Homo sapiens: one gene and its partner. The protein of the gene in region 2 interacts with the protein of the main gene of each other region in a pairwise test. Each region holds a gene or a part of one and is shown on either strand. Other genes may lie near its edges. The genes, in order: ZUP1 and SHCBP1.

Region 1 (3,827 bases), on a different chromosome or scaffold from region 2:
TCTTTGCTAAAAAATAAAATTTTACAAAACAAAGCTCCCCGATAAGGAAATAACATTTATTTAGGTTTTAAGGTACATACTTTACCCTTAGGGAGGTCAGGAGTATATATACTTCACATGCTCCAATCCAGGCCTTTGTTCCCTGTAACCTGTTATTAAGTTGAGAGGCCCCCTGAGGATCAAAACCTTCCTTCCATGCATCTTCAATCATAGATTGAATTTTTGGAATGCAAGGAATCAACATACCTAAAATTACACAAGCAAACATGTTACATGACTGTTAATAAAGTACTGAATAATATTTAGCAGTGTATTATGTACTCGGGGAACTTTACGGTTTTTAAGACAGTTATTCCTGACATCTTCTATCATTTTCTCTTCCTCTAACCAGAATTCAGGTTTCTTATATAAATATCCACTAACTGTTAAAGCTATTAATTGTGTATGCTATATCATTCTATATCATATGTATTTTATCAGATGACAAGTTCAGAGTACTAGATTTCACATACCTTTTAAGCAATCGTTGTAAGCATCATTTTGTAATAATGATGAAAGTAGCATTTGGAAATTTCTGTAACCACAACCCCAACCTTTGTCGCCTAAAGATGAATGAAAGTGATCCACCACTGAAGAAAGCCACACCCGTCTCACATCTGTGGCAGCATTCTGATAATACCTATGAAGTGCTTCAATAATTCCTAAAGTAGAAAAGAGATTCAGAAGCAGTCATTATCACCTTTATATTGCTATCTCATACATTTTTAATATCAACCTCTCCTTCACGCACCATACCTAAATCCTGTTAATTCCATCTTCTTCACCTTCTTCTTGCTATAACCTTAGTTTGTGTCCTTGCTTGTTACTACAGTCCAAGTTTCCTAACACTAGCATATTATTTATTACAGTTCATTGAAATTTTCTGCATCTGCAGGGCCCAGCACATAAAGTACAACTGTTGAATGAATGTTCTTCTTGTGTCTCCATTTTATTGTATAGACTACTGGAGATCACTCAGTCTTAATCAATTTGCTCCCAATCAAAAAATATTAATAGCTCCCTATTACCAATAGTTTTAATTTTTTTGTAATTTAAGATTTTATTTTGCAGATTTTGCAATTTTCGAAGCATGAGAATACACAAATGTTTTCATTTAAAAACTCTTGACTTCATGAATAATAAACATATCTCATACTCCAATACGCTAAATTTCAACCCTTTAGTAACATATTCCATTTTGCTATTTGGGGAGATTAATTAATTTGTTTGAGACAACAGAAGACAACTTTTCTTAAGGCAGAACAATAGGTTTAGGAATCTTATTAATAGCCTTATAAACCTAATTAGAATAGTTCTAATCTATGTTATATGAAGTCTACAGAAAGCTATCCACTGTCTTATCTTTATTTCACACTACTCTTCTTGCTGTAATTTTGGCTGTGGCCTAACTGAACACATTAAACATAATTTGGCCCATAGAGTTTTATTAAATTTTCAAATTCAGTATTTGCTAAGTACTTTTTAATACACCTGGCACTATCTAAATGCTAAGTACAAAAAGATAAATATGATAATATCCTTTAAAATGTCATCGACCCCAACTATAACAAGTGCTATAATATGGAAAAACAAGGTGTTAGGACAAGGGACATCTGACTCGGCCCCTTTCCTGCTTTTAGTATATTCTCCTTATGTTTCAAAATTATAGATCCTTCACATGCTACTGTCTTCATAGACCCTTTTTCTGATTCTACCCTATTTTTGTGTCCCCAAGGTACCAGCAACATTCAGTCACAGAATACTATAATTCTTTGTGTATATTTACATACTCTACAGACTCTGTGAAGCCTATGGGTAGGGAGATCTTATTATATGCCCCATAACTTTCTCATAGCATGTGGCACCAAAGACAATAACTAAATTCTTTTTGCTTGAATGAAGGGTTTCCTAGAAGAAAATGGGTTTTTGTCTTTAATAAAGACAATAAAAGATCAATAAATAAAAACAGTTAAATGAACCAATAGTTGTAGCTGTGCCTTGCACCATGAAAAGGTGAAATACTGATCACTGTAACCACTTCCAAAGAACTTAGAAAGACTTGAATTCAAGAAAAACAACAATTAAAATAGTATATAACTGAGTACTAAATGTTGTAGCATGGAATGAATGGGTACCCTAGGAATTCAGAGAAAGAAAGCTAAATGTAGATTTTAATATCATAGACTTTGATGAAGAGATCAAGATTTGAGGCAGCCCTTTAAGAATGAGGTGGAGTAGGGGACAGAAAAAATAGAAAGGAAAGTAATAAACATTCTAGTACATTTTAGTATATATGTTACATATCAGATGGAGAGCAACACTGTCTTAGCAACATCATGCAACTGCTTTAGGGGGAAATTTCCTTATACTTTTTATTCCTTAGCACCTAAATGTCTTTAGATATTTTCCACAGTAAATTTATCTTCAGTTAAATTATATTCTGTTGTTAAAATTATAACAAGATTGCAGTATATAAGTGAAGACTCTTTAAATGATAGCTGCTTAAATTAACACTTGCATAATTAACGAAAAATAAAAATCTCTGCCACTAAATCACTTCTATATTACAGGACAGTGTGCTTTTTTACAGACATATTTAATATTTTCTTCCTGTATCCTAATGAATCATATCACACATCTGGAGGATGCTCTATGCTATAGTGAGAACTTTTTTACATGGAGACCCCTGAAGAAATATAAAGGCAGCCTTTAGAAACAGAATCATGGATATATGAAAATCTATAATATATAGTATCACAAATAGGTGGAGAAAATGCAGATTCAATAAATGGTAGTGAAATAAATAAGCATAATATGTACTTGCTATAAGGACTGTTATAAACAAGGAGAAAATAATCAGATTCCTATCTTCTCCCTCCTCCCTCCAACATACACATGCAAATAAATTCTGGGTGGATTTAAAATCAAAATATGAAATGCAAAATATAAATATTTGAAGAAAACATAAAGGTATATATTTGTGATCTTAAAGATGGGGGAGTTACTTAAGACACAAATAATAAATAGAAAGATTGAGAACTTTGATTACATTCAAATTCAAAACTTCTGTCTAATTAAAGGCACTATATATAACATTTAAACACAAACCACAGGCCTGAAAAAGATATTTGGATTTCATATAACTAATGAAAGAATAGTGTTCTGAATACTTAACAGTCTCCTATAAATCAGTAAGAACAAACAACTCAATAGAGAATAGAGAAAGGAAGAGAACAGGTAATTCGTTCAAGAGGAAACTAACTCAGGAGTAATCCAGAAAATGCAAATTAAAACATGTATCATCTCATAACCTGTTAAATAGCAAAAATTTAAAAGTGTCACCATACTATGTGTGAAATACACTGGTGTGAATGTAGATTACAAGCACTTTGGAAAACAATTCTATAATAACCTTAACAACGTTGAAGATTTGCACGCCCTTTAACTTAGCATTCCAGTTCTGGATGTAATACTAGAGAAACGCCTGAAGTAGACATGTTCATAAATTATAAGAGTAGAAAACTGGAAGCAATCTAAATGTTTATCAATATGAAAACAAGATAAGTTAGCTATAATTAGCTACATCCAGTTCTGGATGTAATACTAGAGAAACTCCTGAAGTAGACATGTTCATAAATTATAAGAGTAGAAAACTGGAAACAATCTAAATGTTTATCAATATGAAAACAAGATAAGTTAGCTACAATTCATACAAGGAAATACTACACAGCAGCTAAAATGAATGAAGTAGAACTGTAAGAACCAATATATTTGAGCAAAACAATTTA
Region 2 (3,827 bases):
CAAAGAAATCCACGCCAACATACATCATAATTAAACTAGTGTAAGCTTAAAACAAAAATCTTGAAAGCATCAATTAAAATTTTATGCCTTACCTATAGGAGAGAAAATGTGATTGACAGCATCAGAAACCATGGACGTCAGATGAAAGACACACAGTATTGTTCAAGGGCTAAAAGAAAAAAAATTGTCAACCCAGAATCCTATAACCAGTGAAAATATTCTTCAGGAATGAGGAGGAAATCAAGATATTCTAAGAAGAAGGAAAAATAGGAAAATTTGTCACCAGCAGACGTATCTTCATAGAATGACTAAAGGAAGTTATCTAAACAAAAAAGAAATGATAAAAGAGAAGATCCTGGAACATCAAAAAGAAAAAAAAAGAACACAGTAAGCAAAGATATAGGTAAATACAATAAGCTTTCCTTCTCTTGAGTGTTCTAAATTATGTTTGACATTTGAAACAAAAATCATAAAATTCTCTAATATGGTTCTAGATGTACGTACATAAGGCAAATGTTTAAGACAATTATAAAAAGGAGATGGTAGAGAATAATAAAAGGAGGCAAGGTTTCTATACTTTACTTGAACTGGTGACACCAGTAAACTGTTATGTACATATAATATACAACCTAGGGCGACCACTAAAAAAGTTATATGAAGAGATATTCTCAAAAACAAATGAAATTCTGAAAAATGTTCAGCTATCCACAGGATGGCAGAAAAAAAGCAAATCAAGAAATGAAAAGCATAACAAACAGAAAACACGAAATAAACTAAAGATTTAATATCAATAATTAAATGTAAGTGGTCTAAATACAATTAAAAGACAAAGATTGCCAAAGTGGATTAAAAACATGACTCAACTATATGCTGTCTACAACTCACTTCAAACAGAATATAGGCAAGTTGAAATTAAAACAATAGAAAAAGACTATTCAACAAGAGCTAACTATCCTAAATATATATGGGTGCATATAACTATCCTAAATATATATGCACCCAATACAGGAGCACCGGATTCATAAAGCATGCCCTTAGAGACCTACAAAGAGACTTAGACTCCCACACAATAATAATGGGAGACTTTAACACCCCACTGTCAACATTAGACAGATCAACAAGACAGAAAGTTAACAAGGATACCCAGGAATTGAACTCAGCTCTGCACCAAGCGGACCTAATAGACATCTACAGAACTCTCCACCCCAAATCAACAAAATATACATTCTTCACAGCACCACATCACACTTATTCCAAAATTGACCACATAGTTGGAAGTAAAGCACTCCTCAGCAAATATAAAAGAACAGAAATTATAACAAACTGTCTCTCAGACCACAGTGCAATCAAACTAGAACTGAGGATTAAGAAACTCACTCAAAACAAAACTGCTCCACTACATGGACACTGAACAACCTGCTCCTGAATGACAACTGGGTACATAACGAAATGAAGGCACAAACAAAGATGTTCTTTGAAACCAACGAGAACAAAGACACAACATACCAGAATCTCTGGGACACATTTAAAGCAGTGTGTAGAAGGAAATTTATAGCACTAAATGCCCACAAGAGAAAGCAGGAAAGATCTAAAATTGACACCCTAACATCACAATTAAAAGAACTAGAGAAGCAAGAGAAAGCACATTCCAAAGCTAGCAGAAGGCAAGAAATCACTAAGATCAGAGAAGAACTGAAGGAAATAGAGACACAAAAAACCCTTCAAAAAATCAATGAATCCAGGAGTTGGTTTTCTGAAAAGATTAACAAAATTGACAGACCACTAGCAAGACTAATAAAGAAGAAAAAAGAGAGAAGAATCAAATAGATGCAATAAAAACTAATAAAGGGGATATCACCACCAATCCCACAGAAATACAAACTACCATCAGAGAACACTATAAACACCTCTATGCAAATAAACTAGAAAATCTAGAAGAAATGGATAAATTCCTCAACACATACACCCTCCCAAGACTAAACCAGGAAGAAGTTGAATCTCTGAATAGACCAGTAACAGGTTCGGAAATTGAGGCAATATTTAATAGCCTACCAATCAAAAAAAGTCTAGGACCAGACGGATTCACAGCCGAATTCTACCAGAGGTACAAAGAGGAGCTGGTACCATTCCTTCTGAAACTATTCCAATCAATAGAAAAAGAGGGAATCCTCCCTAACTCATTTTATGAGGCCAGCATCATCCTGATACCAAAGCCTGGCAGAGACACAACAAAAAAAGAGAATTTAGACCAATATGCCTGATGAACATCGATGCAAAAATCCTCAATAAAATACTGGCAAACCGAATCCAGCAGCACATCAAAAAGCTTATCCACCATGATCAAGTTGGCTTCATCCCTGGGATGCAAGGCTGGTTCAACATATGCAAATCAATAAACGTAATCCATCATATAAACAGAACCAAAGACAAAAACCACATGATTATCTCAATAGATGCAGAAAAGGCCTTCAACAAAATTCAACAGCGTCTCATGCTAAAAACTCTCAATAAACTAGGTATTGATGGGATGTATCTCAAAATAATAAGAGCTGTTTATGACAAACCCACAGCCAATATCATAATCAATGGGCAAAAACTGGAAGCATTCCCTTTGAAAACTGTCACACAAGACAGGGATGCCCTCTCTCACCACTCCTATTCAACATAGTGTTGGAAGTTCTGGCCAGGGCAATCAGGCAGGAGAAAGAAATAAAGGGTATTGAATTAGGAAAAGAGGAAGTCAAATTGTCCCTGTTTGCAGATGACATGATTGCATATCTAGAAAACCCCATCGTCTCAGCCCAATATCTCCTTAAGCTGATAAGCAACTTCAGCAAAGTCTCAGGATACAAAATCAATGTGCAAAAATCACAAGCATTCCTATACACCAATAACAGATAAACAGAGAGTCAAATCATAAGTGAACTCCCATTCAAAATTGCTTCAAAGAGAATAAAATACTTAGGAATCCAACTTATAAGGGATGTGAAGGACCTCTTCAAGGAGAACTACAAACCACTGCTCAATGAAATAAAAGAGGACACAAATGGAAGAACATTCCATGCTCATGGATAGGAAGAATCAATATCATGAAAATGGCCATACTGCCCAAGGTAATTTATAGATTCAATGCCATCCCCATCAAGCTACCAAGGACTTTCTTCACAGAATTGGAAAAACTACTTTAAAGTTCATATGGAACCAAAAAAGAGCCCACATCGCCAAGACAATCCTAAGCCAAAAGAACAAAGCTGGAGGCATCACGCTACCTGACTTCAAACTATACTACAAGACTACAGTAACCAAAACAGCATGGTACTGGTACCAAAACAGAGATATAGACCAATGGAACAGAACAGAGCCCTCAGAAATAATACCACACATCTACAACCATCTGATCTTTGACAAACCTGACAAAAACAAGAAATGGGGAAAGGATTCCCTATTTAATAAATGGTGCTGGGAAAACTGGCTAGTCATATGTAGAAAGCTGAAACTGGATCCCTTCCTTACACCTTACAAAAATTAATTCAAGATGGATTAAAGACTTAAATGTTAGACCTAAAACCATTAAAACCCTAGAAGAAAATCTAGGCAATACCATTCAGGACATACGCATGGCAGGACTTCATGACTAAAACACCAAAAGCAATGGCAACAAAAGCCAAAATTGACAAATGGGATCTAGTTAAACTAAAGAGCTTCTGCACAGCAGAACAAACTACCATCAGAGTGAACAGGCAACCTACAGAATGCAAGAAAATTTTTACAATCTACCCATCTGACAGAGGGCTAATATCCAGAATCTACAAAGAACTTAAACAAAT

Evidence for each region.
Region 1: the proteins of SHCBP1 (region 2) and ZUP1 interact in a two-hybrid assay, tested with the Homo sapiens proteins (one large-scale study listed by BioGRID and IntAct).

The regions. Positions count from the first base shown.
Region 1 is NC_000006.12:116,651,492-116,655,318, forward strand, and holds part of ZUP1 (zinc finger-containing ubiquitin peptidase 1), read right to left. Parts: intron 702-3,827; coding exon 513-701; intron 247-512; coding exon 81-246; intron 1-80. UniProt on the Homo sapiens protein: Deubiquitinase with endodeubiquitinase activity that specifically interacts with and cleaves 'Lys-63'-linked long polyubiquitin chains. Shows only weak activity against 'Lys-11' and 'Lys-48'-linked chains.
Region 2 is NC_000016.10:46,586,637-46,590,463, forward strand, and holds part of SHCBP1 (SHC SH2 domain-binding protein 1), read right to left. Parts: intron 170-3,827; coding exon of another isoform or gene 122-169; exon of another isoform or gene 93-121; intron 1-92. UniProt on the Homo sapiens protein: May play a role in signaling pathways governing cellular proliferation, cell growth and differentiation. May be a component of a novel signaling pathway downstream of Shc. Acts as a positive regulator of FGF signaling in neural progenitor cells.